Linked DNA regions of Homo sapiens: region 2 is linked to region 1. The links come from fine-mapping of genetic effects on gene expression. A gene starts in region 1. The other region holds a variant in brackets. All regions are shown on one strand. Distances are from middle to middle.

The links. PIP is the estimated chance that this variant, and not a neighbour inherited with it, causes the effect.
Region 2: its variant is fine-mapped to the expression of PYGL in whole blood (INTERVAL, PIP above 0.99).

The regions. Positions count from the first base shown.
Region 1 is chr14:50,940,160-50,949,177 of GRCh38, reverse strand. PYGL (glycogen phosphorylase L) reads left to right here and starts at 4,695. Exons shown (of 20, transcript NM_002863.5): 1 at 4,695-5,017. The coding sequence starts at 4,775. It overlaps LOC124903314 (a long non-coding RNA gene), which reads left to right and starts at 6,588. Exons shown (of 2, transcript XR_007064163.1): 1 at 6,588-7,069; 2 at 7,973-8,377. LOC400212 (a long non-coding RNA gene) reads left to right here. Exons shown (of 4, transcript NR_170195.1): 3 at 1,411-1,530; 4 at 2,714-2,888. RefSeq lists a silencer at 4,516-4,675 and an enhancer at 5,344-5,867.
Region 2 is chr14:50,918,813-50,927,830 of GRCh38, reverse strand. PYGL (glycogen phosphorylase L) reads left to right here. Exons shown (of 20, transcript NM_002863.5): 5 at 3,731-3,862; 6 at 6,764-6,875; 7 at 7,208-7,290. Among named protein-coding and RNA genes, the nearest start is that of PYGL, 21 kb to the left of the region's middle. The variant G/TTG (reference allele first, on the strand shown) is at 4,144.

The sequences.
Region 1 (9,018 bases):
GTGCTGGGATTACAGGTGTGAGCCACCGCACCTGGCCCTCAGTCATCTTTCTAAATATTTGAAACAGCGGAGCCTGGATAACAACCTTGGTTAACAGATTCATACATTAAATATGCTGAGTGCAGTGTACTCAAATTCCCTCATTGAGCATAAAGCTCAGCCCATGGTTTACACCACCCCTTTCCAGAGTGTTAGTGACCTGTCTGTGGGGCCACTGTGGACCTCTGGCATTTCCCTAGATTGCAGAACTGATTAGAAGATGGTCAAAAACCAATAAACAGTACAAAACAGGCCGGGCGCGGTGGCTCACGCCTATAATCCCAGTACTTTGGGAGGCCGAGACGGGTGAATTACCTGAGGTCAGGAGTCTGAGACCAGCCTGACCAGCATGGTGAAACCCCCCTCTCTACTAAAAATACAAAATCTAGCCAGGCATGGTGGCGCACGTCTGTAATCCCAGCTATTCAAGAGGGTGGGGCAGGAGAATCACTTGAACCTGGGAGGCAAAAGTTGCACTGAGCCAAGATGGCGCCATTGCACTCCAGCCTGGGTGACAAGAGCGAGATTCCGCCTCAAAAAAAAACAAACAAAACAAAACAAGTGAGTAGGGTAATAGGTTAGCTGAGATGCAGTCAGAATTCAGGTTTACTTAACAGATCACAAATCCTGTTTCAGGGGAGGAGAAACAACATTAAGGGATTTGAAAACCTCTTCCATCACTTACTGGTGAGGTGATCTTGAGCAAGCTACTCACCTTCTCTAAGCCTCGATTTCCTCATCTGTGAAATGGAAAGAAAAACAGAACTTGTCCCACAGAGCTGATGAGAAGATTAAATGAGTAATGCACATTATGGGCCTTGCCAGAGTCCTTGGAAAATGCTAGTTGCCGTTTTGATAATCTGAAAGTGGTATGCCACCACAATAGGCCCTGCTTTGAAACATAGTGGGTATTAATCTGTATTTGTTTATCTCATATCTTTCTGTGGTGGTCACTAGAAAGGACCTCATAGATGCCCCAAGCTGCAGGAAGCATAACCGACCCAGGGCTCCAGATAGCCCTGCAGAGGCCATGCCTCCGGGAGGATGATCCCACCAATGACCGAGCAGAGTACCGTGGACTCCTGACAGCAGATGCCCTCCAGAACTGCCCAGCAGCACTGCTGGATCTTCCTGGGACTACAGGGCTGTCTGAGATATGCCCTTCTACCCTTCCCTCTCTCTCCCCTTCACTCTAGGTCACACTGGCATCACAGTCTGATGCTCTCTCTGGCTAGCACTCCCCGTTTTTCCCTCCCACAAGCATTTACCCCAGTAAAAAATCTTAACATGTTTAATCCTGTTTTAGCTTCTGCTTCTCTGAAGACCCGAACTAACACACTACTTTCTCATGTTTTTTTGTATTTCCAACAGTGGGAAACTTACACTTGTCCTATGAGTTCTGGACTGTTTGTTCAGCTACTTACAAACGCCATTTCGTTACAGCAGCCACGGGGAAGCAGTGGATGAGAAGCAGGAATAATATAGGCCATTGTGAGTAAGGCTGCTATAAACATGTGAGCCACTGAAATCTGATACTTTTTCAGGGATCCATAGTTTCTGGTTCTTTCTGGTCAAGAGAGGCTAAAGGAAAGGTTTTTAAAGATATTAATTTTCTTAGTCAAGTAACTTAACCTCTCAAGGCCTCAGTGTCCTAGACTAGCACAGAACAAGCAGATGAAACAAAGTTTATATCAGAATGTCAACTGAAAAAGTATCATTTACCATAAATGGAAGATAATTGTATTAAATTCTAGTTAGATGCTAAAACTTCAAGAACTTTTAGAGTCTGTACCTGCATTCTGTTAAAAATATAGATTAAAAAATGCTAACATGTTAACACAAAGGACTTTCCAGAAAGACTTAAAGAAAAGTGAAAGGGGAATAACTGTCTTGCAATGTAATTCATTGTCGTTTAAGACTGGGTCTATGGAACACCCTAAATCACCTGGTTCCATCACGTTCTTTTTAACATGGAGATGGATAGTTTTTCCCCATACTCTATATATTGAGCATTCTATAGTTCATGATTTTTCTGCATAGAGAATTGTTCAAGCCGGGGGTGCAGGCTCACCGACTGGATAGTGAATCAAGAAAATAGTGTGTTCATTAGTTCATCATTACCCTGAGTTTCCAACAAGAATTTAGTACAGGAAAGTAGACAGCGGAGCTGGGAGCCATCTATTTGAAACTGTCTTAAGCAAAACTAAGAAACCGAGTAAGCTTGCTTTTGGTGTCTTTCATCCCTTCTTGTGTGCCCCCTAATTATTCACTCCCCAATGCCCAGACATTATGATGCCTTCTCCTGCTCAGAGACCTTTCTGGGAGGAAGACCTACTCAGACCTGGTATTCCCTCATCCTAGGCTCTACCCTATTTTTCATCCAGCTGTTAAAGCTGAGTGACTAATTTCACACTTATGTACGAATGACCCATAACTGGCTTAATGCTGTGACCATCTTGGGGGTATTCAAAGCTGATAAACACTTTTTTAAGTTATATAATAATCAAAGAAGCTTATCTTTCTGCTTTATTTCAAATTTCACCCCACAGGCCTTACTTATTTTTAAGATCAATGATTTTGATGGGCCCCCCCTTCCCACTCTTAATTCAGGGTATTTCTGGCCCCATCCGGATCCAAACTCTAATGCTCATCTCTTCCATACTGTCCTTTGCAGGTCATCGGTATTGCAAGAGTTGCATAAGGCCCAATTCAGTCTCTGCCCCAAAAGCTCAAGTCCAAACTTCAGAATCTGGGAGGACAAGGATTCAGGAAATTTTGTCAGAACTATGAGCTTTGAACTTTCACTTTTATGGTGAGGGTCACATTTGGTCTGAATCAATTAATCCATTACCCGCCCCCCCCCCCCCCCCCACCACCACCATGTGTGAATTCAAAATAATCAACTTGGGTTTATTATAAAAAACAAAATATATTAATATAAGTATACTAAGATTTTTCTAGAAAACTTGGCCGGGCGCGGTGGCTCACGCCTGTAATCCCAGCACTTTGGGAGACCGAGGAGGGCGGATCACAAGGTCAGGAGATCGAGACCATCCTGGCTAACACGGTGAAACCCCATCTGTACTAAAAATACAAAAAATTAGCCGGGCGTGGTGGCGGGCGCCTGTAGTCCCAGCTACTCGGGAGGCTGAGGCGGGAGAATGGCGTGAACCCGGGAGGCGGAGCTTGCAGTGAGCCCAGATCGCGCCACTGCACTCTGCCTGGGTAACAGAGTGAGACCCTGTCTCAAAAAACAACAAACAAATAAACTTAGAAGAATATATGTGACTATTGGCCGGGCGCGGTGGCTCACGCCTGTAATCCCAGCCCTTTGGGAGGCCGAGGCGGGCAGATCACGAGGTCAGGAGATAGAGACCATCCTGGCTAACATGGTGAAACCCTGTCTCTACTAAAAATAAAAAAATAAAAAATAAAAAATGCGAGGTGGCGGGCGCCTGTAGTCCCAGCTATTCAGGAGGCTGAAGCAGGAGAATGGCGTGAACCCGGGAGGCGGAGCTTGCAGTGAGCCGAGATCGCGCCACTGCACTCCAGCCTGGGCAACAGAGTGAGACTCCGTCTCAAAAAAAAAAAAAAAAGAAGAAGAAGAAAGAAAAAGAAAAGAAAAAGGAAAAAGAAAACTTAATTCTGGCAATGGACTGTTTCTAAAATAATATATTAATACTACTTAATGAGGAAGAAAAAACCTCTGACATCCTAAAATGCCAAGTGTTTGCCTTTACCAAGGTTTAAGCACACATAAACACGCATATTCAAATACCACCCAAAGTGGAGGTGCAAAGATCAGCCTGTACCGCACAGTAACACAGACTGGGTTGTTTTTTGTAAAGAAGGCAACTAGTCCAGTGAGTAATCCCTTCATTTTCCACACACATACCCTTCTGTTTTCTCCCTCTCCTCCCCCCACACCCTCCACTGCAGTTAAAACGTAATTCGAAGAAGCCTAAGGTAAAAGCCCCTGCCGCATAATGACCCTAGAGCTTCACCTCACCTACTCTGATTCTTAGTAACCTACCTCTAAGGATGAGAGACAGGGTGCTACGAGCGGGGCGAACTTTGGTCCAGGAGTTAAGAAACCTGAACCCTGGAGTCCTCAAAAAAAATGAATGAAAATAACAGAGGCGCCCTGAGGATCCAAGCTGGGGCGGTGCCAAGGGCTGGCAAGTGAGGTTGGGACAACAGAAGTCAAACGTGCCGTCCTTCCAGATCCCGGCGCTTATGGCGGAAGCCACTCCAGGTGAGAAATCCTAACAGTCATAATGGCATAACAAATAAACATCGGCAAAACAGCAGTCTGCCAACGACGTGCTTCCCTACACAGACGTCCTCCTGTCTCCACACTCTAGAGGGGAGAGGCGGAACAAATGCTGCCTCCGCAGATTTTGGAAATCCGGAAGGGAGCCTCCGAGCCCAGGTCCCGGGCTGGCAGGGGTCTCGCCGGCGCTTGGACCTCGTCTCCCACCCCCGAGCCCACTGCGGCCCCAGAGCCTCGGGAGGGGCCGGGCACTTCCTCTGCCCTCCGGCCTGGGGCAGGGGCCGGGACGCGGTGGGAGTGCAGCGGGGACGGCACCGCCCGAGGGGGCGGGCCCCAAACTTTCGTGCGCGTTGAAAGCTGCTGGCGCGGCGGGGCGGACTCCACCCCTGCCCGGCAGCCCAGCGCCTCCGGCCGCACTTCCAGCTCTCTGCGCAGCCCGCCGCGCAGCCCGCCGCCCCAGCCATGGCGAAGCCCCTGACGGACCAGGAGAAGCGGCGGCAGATCAGCATCCGCGGCATCGTGGGCGTGGAGAACGTGGCAGAGCTGAAGAAGAGTTTCAACCGGCACCTGCACTTCACGCTGGTCAAGGACCGCAACGTGGCCACCACCCGCGACTACTACTTCGCGCTGGCGCACACGGTGCGCGACCACCTGGTGGGGCGCTGGATCCGCACGCAGCAGCACTACTACGACAAGTGCCCCAAGGTAACCGGGGGCGGGACGGCGGGCCGGGGTCCAGCCCGGAGTCGGAGTCTCCGGCCGCGGCCGGGCGGGACGAGGTGGAGAACCCCTCAGAGTGGTCCCTTGCACCCGGTCCTTGCCCCGAAGTCCAGAGGAGACGTGTCTAGGCTGTGGGCGGGCAGCCTGGGGGACAGATTAGGCCTCCCAACAGACGCCGAACTCATGTCTCCGAGGTGCCACCCGCCAGTGTCCCGCCCAAACCACTGTGCCGTCCGCCCCTGGAAACCGCCAGGTGGGCAAAAGCCCAGGCCCCTCTCGCCTGTCCACTTCACAAACTTTTTTGGAACTTTGACTCTCAGCATTTAATCAAGAGGTGACGGGGGCCTCTTGTCCTGTATGCCGGACACTATTCTCTGCCCTGGACACTCAGCCCTAAACAAAAGGGACAAAAATCTTGCCTTGCTGGAGCTTGGTATTTTGGGAGGGGAGACAAACGCCGAGCTGGGAAAAGGTCGTAAGTCTCAGGCCTCTGGGAGTGGCTAAGTGTGGTGCAGAGGAGGGGCAGGGTCCCGCTCCAAGCGTAGAGCGCCGCCCACCCATTCTCCTGAGTGGGTGTAGCTCCTGGAATTCCGTGAGTCTTTCGCAAAGGCGGCCCAGGGCCAGGCAATGCCCTGGACTCGTCCTCCCCGAAGACACACACTCCCCCGACCCTTAGCCCTTCCACACCCGAGGCCTGCCCCCAGAGCTGCTGAGGAAGGCTGGTCAGGGACCACCTCCATCCACGGCGTGGGGGCGGGAGCAGAGACCTCCTTAGGGTGATTTTGGACCTACAGAGGGACAATATCTCTGCCTGACAGTTTGCGAAGAGGGCGAGAGGCAGTGGGGAAGGACTGGGGAGGACATGGCAGGGAGAGGGATTGTGTGCAGGCTGGAGTGAGGGCGGGTGTGAGTCTGTATTGGGAGAGGAAACTGGAGAAGCCAGGTAGAGACATATTGGAAAGAATAAAAGATTGGGATACATCCCAGGGGCAGTGGGAAATATATATAAACATTTATTAGAACTTTTTAATTATGTAAAGGTGTGAAGAAAAAAAAATGGTCTATAATCCCAGTGCCCAAGAAACCCCATAGGAATTTTTAAGAAAGGAAATGAATGTAAATTCTCATAGTAAGAAATTGCAACTGTAACAGTTTTCAAATGGAAAGTAACTCTTCTTCACCCCAAAGACCTAGGCCTCCACCAAGGTAGCAACTGCTAAAATGTATCCTTAAAAATTTAAATGCACCTTAGAAAACACTTTATGTATACATATATTTACTGTTTTGTTGTTTTGTTTTGTTTTGTTTTGTTTTGTTTTGTTTGAGACAGAGTCTCACTCTCGCCCAGGCTGAATGAAGTGCAGCGGCGCCATCTTGGCTCACTGCATCCTTCGCCTCCAGGGTTGAAGCGATTCTCCTGCCTCAGACTCTCGAGTAGCTGGGACTACAGGCTCCTACCACTACACCTGGCTAAGTTTGTATTTTTAGTAGAGACAAGGTTTCACCATGTTGGCCAGGCTGCTCTCAAACTCCTGGCCTCAAATGATCCTCCTTCCTTGGCCTCCCAAAGTGCTGGGATTACAGGTGTGAGCCACCACACTCGGCCACTATCTTTTAAAAATTTATTTACACAAAGGGAATGCTACTAAGTACACCATACTGCGCCTCTCATTAAAAATTATTTTTAACAATTTTAAGCGGAAGGGTGGGACACTGAGCATATATTAGAAACACACACTCACGCCTCTGTAGCATTTAGCATCATAGAGCACCAGAGAATCTTGTATGTTTTTCCTTCAGTGGCTTATGCAGTGCTTTATGGTTTTCCTGGTTCTCCGGCCAGTTTCTTCACTGGGCTCTCCTTTTCTACGTGAGTGCAGATATAAGCCAGGAATTCCGACGTGTGTAAATTCTGATAGCGATACACTGGGGATACAACAATGAACATGTTTCATTCCACACGTGTTCATCAAATATCTACTCCATCACAGTCGTCTGTCTAAACAGGATGGTTCCTGCCCTCATAAAGTAGAGCAAGTAGGTGTGTCCAAGCTCCTCTCCCACCTCCCTTGCTCTCCAATAACTGTGCAGATGAATCCCAAATATGGATCCCTAGTCTGAATTCCTTTTCTAACTCTATGCGTACATTTCTGAGTGTTTAGTGAACATATCTAGATATCTTCCTATTTCCTCAAACTCAGTACGTTAAAAACTCAAACCATTATTTCTCCCAATCCTGCCCCATCTTCCCGTGTTTTGTTTTGTTTTGTGACAGAGTCTCACTCTGTCACCCATGTTGGAGTGCAATGATGCAATCTCGGCTCACTGCAACCTCTGCCTCTCGGGTTCAAGTGATTCTCCTGCCTTAGCCTCCTGAGTAGCTGGGATTACAGGTGCATGCCACCATGCCCAGCTACTTTTTGTATTTTTAGTAGCGACAGGATTCCACCATTTGGACAGGCTGGTCTCGAACTCCTGACCTGGTGATCCACCCACCTCGGCCTCCCAAAGTGCTGGGATTACAGGCATGAGCCACCACGACTGGCCTCTGTGTTTTTTGTTTTCATGCCATTGTCATCTTGACAATCCAGACGCAAACTTTAGTCTCACTTTTTGCCGTTCAACTGTTTGCCAATTTCTGTTGATTTCTATAGGTTCCCTTGAATGACGTGCTCTCCTCCATTATCTCTTCCTGCCTTGGTGAGGCTCTAGCTACCCATTTGTTGCAGCTGACTTCACGTGGTTATTTTGCTTTCCAGAAGTGGTAAAACCGGCAGCCTGAGGCTGAATAAGGATAGCAGACATACTTTGTTGGCCAAGACATTTTTCAGGAATTTAATTTTTAGCGCCTGTGGTCAGGACTTGCACACTCCATTTCTTAGCCCAGTACTCTTCTTTGTTTTATGTGACCTCAATTACACATTTATTTTCTCTGCCTAGCTCCTGAAGGCATTTGAGTATATGATCCCGTCTCATTCTGTGCATTGTGGTCTGCTCAAGCTTCCTAAAGCAACGCATCTTGCCCCTGCTCAATTATCATTGGCTCCTCTTGCCTGCCATAGAACTTAAGCAAGTATTCGAAAGCACTTCTCAGTCCAGGTGGGCCTGTTCTTCCCTTGTTATCTTCCATTACCCTCTGTACCCACCTTGCTCTCCCAACAAACCAATCCCCACTCTGGGCCCCCGATTCACTTGCAGTGTCCTTCCTACCACATTTCTATGCTCAACTCTTGCCTGTCCTGCAAGTCTCAGGTTTATTGACAGGTGTTCCAGAGGTCTTCCCGGAAGTACCCAGGCCCTCTGACTAATGCTGGGGATAAAAATAAAACATACAATTTAAAAATATTTGTTATATCTTCTTTATTTTATTTTACAAGCCTTTTGAAAATATCCACTTTTTACATAAAATACTAGTAATCATAGTACATGCATGTAATTTATAAAGTATATTGGAGATGCTCATATATTTTACTATCAGTCATATGTAACAAATATTTAGAGACCAGTAAGTAAGAGTATGGCCAAGATCTATTTTTTGAAGTCTTATATATTCCCAAATATAAGGAGAGATTACCTCTAAGAAGTTATTTGTGAGAAAACAGGGAATCACCTTACGTTCCTGTCCTTATAAAGTCTGTCATGCAAGGAAGTATTTTCTCATTTACTTTATTCTGAGCAACCACATATCTCTCAAGAGAGACTTTGAAATATTTTTAAGAAGACTTAAGTTCGTGCTAATGTGGAATCATTAAAAAGGAGGCAAATTTAATACAGATGTAGTCATTATTCCTGGGGGTATAACCTCACAATTGCAAGTGTGGAATATATACTATATAAACAAGCTTTTTGTAGATTACTTAAAAGAAAAAGGCAAAACATCATGGTTATAGAGATAATGAAAATACACACATGGAAGGATTTTTTTAAACTGGGTAATACTATGCAAATGGGTATTTGTGGCTTAAGATACTATTACCTGTGACAGC
Region 2 (9,018 bases), 21 kb after region 1:
ATTTAGTGGAGGCAGCAAGGGATAGTTCTCTCCTCCTCAGATCTACTCAGGTCAACTTGTTATGAAACGCTTGTTTCTCAATCTACCTTAAAAACAAGCCTTATAAAATTGATAGAATTATTCACCAATTCTTTATTGAATCAGCGGGAGATTCACAATAAAGAACAGCAAGCAAATAAACTCTCCTACGAGTTGTTAGCCCCATGAAGCTAAAACCAATCATTTACTTGGCAGGAAAAAAATTCAACCAACATTTGATGGCATTAAGAATCTCATGTAAGAGTGTACCCTCAAAAGAGCAAATGTGGCTTATCGTGGTGGCTCACGCCTGTAATCCCAGCACTTTAGGAGGCCGAGGCAGGCAGATCACTTGAGGTCAGGAGTTCAAGATCAGCCTGGTCAACATGGTGAAACCCCGTCTCTACTAAAAATACAAAAATTAGTTGTGTGTGGTGGCGGGCACCTGTAATCCCAGGTACTTGGGAGGCTGAGGCAGGAGAATCACTTGAATCTGGGAGGCATATGTTGCAGTGAGCCAAGATTGTGCCACTGGACTCCAGCCTGGGCGACAGAGCAAAACTGTGTCTCAAAGAAAATGAAAATAAAAATAAAAAGAGTAAATGCAACCTCTGACTTCCACAGGAGTCAGGGACTGAGCCCACAGGAGGAAGTTCAGTGCCCATCCTCTCTTATCTGAGCATTTCAGGCTTCTTGGGGGCAGGACAGTATATCATCCTGCTGCATTTCTCAGCAAAAAAATATGTCATCAGTTCTCCCATGGTCATGAGTTTTCAGAGGAAAACTGTTTCTGCCTCATCGTCTTCCTATTTCATACAATACCTTCAGATGGGTTTTACAACAGCCCTGCATGCTGAAATGAGGCAAACAGGCCTATGGTTCTTTCCTGTTACAGGAAGCAGTGTTCACATTGCTCAGTATTTTAAAACCCAAAATTGGCCCTTGCCTAAGTGCAGCATAAAGTATTTTGTAAGTCAAGATGTTTTGATCCTTTGTTGATGTCATCATTTTATTTATTATAGCATTTCTAGTTATGAACCCAAGTTAATGGACTTTTTCTTTTTTTTTTTTTTTTTTTTTTTTTTTTGAGACAGAGTCTCACTCTGTCTCCCAGGCTGGAGTGCAGTGGCACAATCTCTGCTCTCTGCAACCTCTGCCTCCCAGGTTCAAGTGATTCTTTTGCCTCAGCCTCCTGAGTAGCTGGGATTACAGGTGCCCGCCACCATGCCCGGCTAATTTTCATATTTTTAGTAGAGACGGGGTTTCACCATGTTGGCCAGGCTGGTCTCAAACTCCTGACCTCATGATCAGCCCACCTCGGCCTCCCAAAGTGCTGGGATTACAGGCGTTGCCACCACGCCTGGCCAAGTTAATGGACTCTTTAACAAGCTTCTTGACAACTGGCAAACTTCAACTGTTTCTTTATTAAAATTTTATTTTATTTTATTTTACTTTATTTTTTGAGATGGAGTCTCACTCTGTCACCCAGGGTGGAGTACAGTGGCATGATCACAGCTCACTGTAGCCCTGACCTCCCGGGCTCAAGCAATCCTCCCACCTCAGCTTCCTGAGTAGCTGGGACTACAGGTGCACACCACCACACTCGGCTAATTTTTAAATTTTTTTTAGAGATAGGTTCTCACTATGTTGCCCAGGCTGCTCTCAAACTCCTGGGATCAAGTGACCTTCCTGCCTCAAAAAAATTTTATCTTTGTTCTCTTATGACTGGGATAGCGGAAGTTTAGTTTTTAATTCTGAATTACAGATTACAGTTATTGACTTTGCATTGCCTTGTAGCTCTTGGCTGCTCTTTGTGGGGTTCAGGGACCAGTAGAATCAGGAGCCCCTGGGAGCTTATTAGGAATGCAGAATTTCAGGCCCCTCCCCAGACCTACTGAGAATCTGCATTTTAAGAAGATGTGACTTTCTGACGAGCTCAGATCTCTCTCCAGCCTTCCCTAGGGTTCATCTTGCATCTGATACCTCCTCCTTCCTCCAGTGGCTCTCTAACTCCTAGCTCTTCCAACTAAAGATGTTGTTGCTATGAGTCCCATTTCCATTCATCATTACACTGGTAGTTAATATTAGTGGGAAGCTTACTGGCTTTCTTGATAAACAACACTATCAAAATTTGAATAAGTGAACTTGTATTCATTTCTCTGGCTGTTGACAATAATGGTTAGTCTAAATTCTCAAAAGATAGTGGCTGTGTTTATTTTTGTCTCTTCACACTGTTCCTGAGACAGGCATTACACTCATGTTTAGGTGATCATGAGATGTCCAACATTGTGTTGTAATTCTTAAGCAGTATCTTCTAAAACTAAAGCTGAGTTTTCTAAGAGGTGAATATGAGGTATCAAATAGGTAAAATAACCATATTGGAGATTATCTCATTGACAAAGCTGCTTTGTTTACCCCCTTCTGGCCAGAACACAATTCCATTTTTTAATGTATAGTCATGCACCACATAATGACATTTCAGTCAACAATACAACACATATGCAATAGTGGTCCCATAAGATGGTAATGGAGCTGCCCCCTGTGGGTGTACCATTTCTTATGTTTTATACTGAATTTTTACTGTACTATTTCTATGTTTAGATATACAAACACCATCGTGTTACCATTACCTATAGTATTCAGCACAGTAACGTGCTGTACAGGTTTGTAGTCTAGGAGCAGGAGGCCATACCATATAGCTCAGGTGTGTAGTAGGCAGCACCATCTGGGTTTGTGTAAGTGCACTCTGTGATGTTTGCACAATGACAACGTTGCTTAAGAACACATTTTTCAGAATGTATCCCTGTCGTTAAGCAATCCACAACTGTATGTGTCATATTTTAAAGGTTTCAATAATTTAAAAATACATCCCCCTCCAATGTGTTTGGTGGTGGTGGTGTTCTTATTTTGATGTGTTTGTTTGTTTGTTGCAAATGAAAATGTATTTGATGTCCAGGATATCCTAAATAGAAACCATAGTTTAAAATCGTATATAAGAAATATTTTGTTATAAATTGACATAAATACCTAGGAAAATATTGAAATTGTCAATAAAATAAGTTCATTACCTCTTGGAATATGTTATTTTCAAAATAAACTATAATCTATAGTTCATTATCAAATCAAAATTACATAAGGATTGAGATAAGCAAAGACTACATAATGCAATAATGTTCTGTACCTATACCAATAAGCTTGATTAAAAGAGTGTTCTGTAAGTAGCATTTTCTAACTGATTCTGTATATTCTAGCCACAAGAATCTTGACTGAACCCTTTGTGTAGGACTCAACAGGCCCAGGTATCCAACGATAAACATCCCTGTAAGGCGTCTGTCTTTAGCTGAAGCTGGACAATTGGATTCACAGACGTTAAGACAGAGGCTCTGGAACACAGAGACCTAAGGGCAGATCTTATCTCTATCGTTTACTGTTTGACCTTGAGATCTTATCTCTACCGTTTACTATTTGACCTTGAGCAGTTACAATTCCTCATCTTTAAAAGAGGATTAAATGCAGTAATACATATAAAATATTTAGAGCTGTATTAGCGAGTATTATTGTTGATGTAGGCTGTAAAAAAGTTACAAAACAGTACTCAGTATTCATAAGTTGTTTCAGTTAAAGATGTTTTAAATTTAATATAATATAATTGAAGTGCTAGGTTCATATTTCCTGACAAATAAATTCTAAGCAATACTGTATCCTTTTGCAGGTAGAAGAAGCAGATGATTGGCTCAGATATGGAAACCCTTGGGAGAAGTCCCGCCCAGAATTCATGCTGCCTGTGCACTTCTATGGAAAAGTAGAACACACCAACACCGGGACCAAGTGGATTGACACTCAAGTATTCAGAGTGCTCGTATAGCCAGCGTTTTGTATAGTATTTAGTACAGTAGATAATACATTGACTATGTAGCATATAGTGGTGATATTGAGTATAGGGCATGTCGTGTTTTGAATAATAGAATATATTTTTGTAAATAAATCTGTTACTTCTCTTAGCGCAGCCCAGTCATTTTGGAGACAAAGGAGCTGAGGCCAAGAGAGGAGTGACTTTTATAAGGGTCATTTTGCAACCAGCTTTGTCAGAAAATTGTCAGTTCTTTTTTTTTTTTTTTTTTTTTT[G/TTG]CCAGAAAATTGTCAGTTCTATAGTAACCAGCATGCTTACCTCTTTGGTTTTATATTAAGGTGTTGATAGCAAAATTGAATAATTTGAAATGTCATTCCTGGCTGGGTGCAGTGGCTCACAACTGTAATCCCAGCACTTTGGGAAGCCGAAGCGGGCAGATCACCTGAGGTCAGGAGTTCAAGACCAGCCTGGCCAACATGGTGAATCCCTATCTGTACTAAAAATACGAAAATTAGCCAGGAGTGGTGGCCCATGCCTATAGTCCCAGCTACATGGGAGGCTGAGGCAGGAGAATCGCTTGAACCTAGGAGGTGGAGGTTGCAGTGAGCTGAGATCATGTCGCTGCACTCCAGCCTGGGTAACAGAGTGAGACTCTGTCTCAAAAAAAATAAAATAAAATAAAATAAAAATAAAAGTTTGCAGTTTACACAATCAATCCTGGAAGCATTTTATTTACACTGTGGGTCCCACTGCTGAGCTAACTTGCATTTACAAAACACCTCTAGATACTGTCATAATGTATCCAGAAATTCAATTAGAGAGAGTGTGTGTTTCTGGGCCAACAGAGGCAAGGTTAGGGGGCAGAGGTAATATAAGTGAGCTGGCCCAAGCCATGCAACTTAGCCTCATAGATTGAAGTCATCACATGAATTAACCCCAAACTGGTACCCAGTGATGTCAGAGCATGAGTCCAGATGTGCTCTGTGCGTGCATGGGATGGCTTCCAATAAAGTCAAATGACACAGTCACGTGTCAGTTTAGGTCCTCTAGGAAACAGACACCAGAGAGAATGAGAAGTGCAAGTGACATATTGGGGGATGCCTATGAAAGACAAAGGGGAGAGGGAGCAGGATGAGGTGGGAAGGCTTCAGACTGTGACACAGGTGTGCCACCTGTGAAAAGTGAAGGGGAAAGAAGCAGCATTCTCAGGGAGAGCCTCAGACCACAGTGCCACTCTGAGCAAGTGGCCAGGCTGATGGAGCCTGACACTAAAGATTGCCCATTAGAGAAGTCTCGGCCCTAGTGTCCCAGCCACATGGAGTGTCCCAGAGAGCGCAGCTTTGGTGTGAGCTCTGAGGGAGCAAGTCCTCTTTGAGGTTCTCTGAAAGAAGATCTAAGCTGTGCACTTCTTGGGCTGCCTTAATTATGCTTCAAGGGTCAGAAGGGTCCAACTCTTGTTTGAACCGAGACTCAATCCCAGCCTGCAAATGACTTTCCCTGATTGATTACAACTTGCTTTAAAAGTCCAGAGACTTTTATCTCTTAATGAAAGATATTTAAATGAGGGTGATTTATTACTTTGAGGTCGCGGTGATCACGAAAGTATGACTGAGTATATGTGATTGATATGGGCCATAATGCTTCATTCATTCACAATTCAGCAGACCAAATTAAAGAGATGCGTGTTTAAGTTTCAATCCTGCCATGACTGTGATCTTGGGCAAGTCACTTCTCTCTCAGCTTCAGCTCCCTCATGTCCAAAATAAGTGGGTTGCACTAAATGAGATCCAGCATCCTCCAGTTCAATTATTCTGTCATTCTCCTTCCTTCGAGCTTGACTCTGATGAGGCCGGGAATAAAAATGAATGATTTCTCACTTGAATTTTCGATGCACTGTGAAACATAGTTAATCTTCCTCTTCTCTATTTCAGTGACTGTCACAAAGATCAAGCTAGATTTTCCAAAGCTTACCTCTTAGACTCAACTCAGCTAATTATCAGCTGATTTGGCAGATCACTGTAGGAATCACTAAAATAACTCCTTATGCAACTTTAAAAATCTAGCATAGCATTTTAAATATTATATGAGATGTTATAGCTTCATAAATTTCCTATTCCATTTACTTTCATCATACTTGAAATCAGATCACTGAAAAACCTATGCAAAACATATTCTAAGTGCTATTTTTTGGTGGGTACAGATTCACAATGTCACTTTGTTTGCATATCATATTTTATTATTATTAGAGCAATGGCTTTATCTGAAACATGAAAGATAAACTTTTTTGGCTGGGTGCAGTGGCTCACGCCTGTAATCCCAGCACTTTGGGAGGCCGAGGTGGATGGATCACGAGGTCAGGAGATCGAAACCATCCTGGCTAACACGGTGAAACCTCGTCTCTACTAAAAATACAAAAAAATTAGCCGGGCATGGTGGCGGGCACCTGTAGTCCCAGCTACTCGGGAGGCTGAGGCAGGAGAATGGTGTGAACTTGCAGTGAGCCGAGATTGCACCACTGCACTCCAGCCTGGGCAACAGAGTGAGACTCCGTCTCAAAAAAAAAAAAAGATAAACTTTTTTGAATACAAATACCATATCATTCCATTCCACTGCATTTATATCAGGGCAAGGGCACATGGAGAGTCAACATAGAAATACTGTAAAGGACCATCAGTGTGGATGGTTTCAGTCACTAGATTGTACCAGGTCGGGGAGGAACCACATGTTCCTCTAATACCCTCTGCAGCCCTGAGACCCTCTTCTCCATTTAGGCCTCACACAATTTAAGTTGGTAATGGAGCCAGGAATAGAATTCCATTGCAGTCTCCCAGCCCCTTGTTCAACCTATGTCATCACACTTGGGAAACAATGAGCAGCTGCTTCTGTTTAATCCCACAGGTGGTCCTGGCTCTGCCATATGACACCCCCGTGCCCGGCTACATGAATAACACTGTCAACACCATGCGCCTCTGGTCTGCTCGGGCACCAAATGACTTTAACCTCAGAGACTGTGAGTACAGCACAGGCCTTGGTTTCTTTATGCGTGTGCTTAATCTTTTTGATTGGTAGTTAGAACCAAATTGAGCTTGAAACAAACAAAAAAGCCTTGAGTTTCTGATCTGAACTTCACTGACTAAGCAGGCATTGTATGGAGGAAGTAGGGAGGGCATTTTTAAAGCAATTCTCATGTGAAGTCCAGCATGACGGTGTGTTGAAATCCTTTGGGATTTTTAGGAATTTTAGGAATCCCACATGACACACAGCACAGAGCCAGTGAGATCAAGAGGTTTCCAACAACAATGGCTGGTTTCTCTATTTATTGTTTCTCTAACTTTCCCCTAGTTAATGTTGGAGACTACATTCAGGCTGTGCTGGACCGAAACCTGGCCGAGAACATCTCCCGGGTCCTCTATCCCAATGACAATGTGAGTGATCAAGGTTGCTTTCTTAGTGGCAACAGAGGCAGCTTATTTCACAAGAGCCTGTTCAGTAACCTATAAAACACATTTAATATTGATGTTTTTCCATGTGCAGAACAAGCTCCGTATTTCTTCCTGAATTGTGTAGATTTCTCCTCCCAACCAAGTAAGGAAAACAAATCTGTATAGTGCATGAAATCAGAATTGGTATTTTGCCCTTGATTAGTGACCCCATCACTAATTGGGAAGTTATTGAGATGTATTTTAAAACAAAACCTGGATATAAGAGATGAAGTAAATCACTGGTGAAGCACTGCCTCCTTTCCAGATAGAAATTTTATCTGCAAAGTCAGAAGTCACTGAATATTTTCTGCCTCGCCTCTTCTCTCACTGACTAGGCTCTTTCTGGTCCTCTGCCCTGATGCTAGATGGAGTTAGAGACCCTGGGGCAGACCCATGAACAAACATCTGTTTCTTCTGCCACTGACTTGTATCTTTTTCTTATAGTCAATTATTCTAATTTTATTGTAAATATAGCTTAGTTAAAAAAAAAAAACACTTGGGGCCAGGTGCAATGGCTCATGCCTGTAATCCCAGCACTTTGGGAGTCTGAGGCGGGCAAATCATTTGAGGCCAGAAGTTCGAGACCAGCCTGGCCAACATGACGAAACCCTGTCCCTACTAAAAATACAAAAAAATTAGCCAGGTGTGATGGTAGGCGCCTGTAATCCCAGCTACTGGAGAGGCTGAGGCAGGAAAATCGCTTGAGCCTGGGAGACAGAGATTGCAGTGAGCCGAGATTGCACCACTGCATTCCAGCCTAGGTGACAGAGTGAGACTCTCTCAAAACACACACACACACACACACACACACACACACCACTTGGAACTGGATCTCAGATAACTGCTATTGATTCTTGGTTGTTTTAAATATATGTAACTCTAAACTTCTCTATGGGTAAAATCATTTTCATGAAGCTGTAATGATTTTTTTAAAGTGGTCTCAGAAGCAATAAAATTAGCACTCTGCTTTACAAAGATGGCAGAAGACAAGGATCTTGGGGGGACTAGGACATAAATAGTCCTTAATACCAGATGTCCACCTGGTGTTAAATCATAATCTCTCAGAAAGGAAGATGATTATGTGGATTTTGCTGGAGCATTTTTAGGAACCTAATGGTATATGCTATTATTCCTTTGTGGAAAACATTGTGGCTTCAGTACATTTCAGAGAAATCTCTAACCCAAAAGCAAAAAGTTATTCTATGTCAGGGTCAAAGTAAGAGTTCTTCCAAGTCTGGGACCGTACTGCCAACCTAAACCCAGTCTGCAGGGGCTTGAAATTCATCCTCCTGTCTTCAGTAAGGACCAAAACTAATTTTACTGGGAAATAATCGTCTGCAGTAACTGACAATATATACTAAGTTAGCATGGGGTAAAAAATTGACTAGATTTGTTGGGTAAAAGGGAGTTCTCAGGATCATGTTTTTGTTTGTTTGTTTGTTTGTTTGTTTTTAAGAGTAAGCTGAAAAATCCTTTTATACTGTAATTACAATAACAAATTCATTCTTCTCCTCAACTTGGCCATAGCCCTGGCATAGGTCAGTGATTATACTTTTAAGTATTAGGGAGTTCAGAGCCCCAGATATTCTATATGCAGACCTCTATGCTCATATTCATTAGTTTTAATAAGACTCTGGTCCAAGGCTTACATTTGGGGGATGGGGTGCTCAT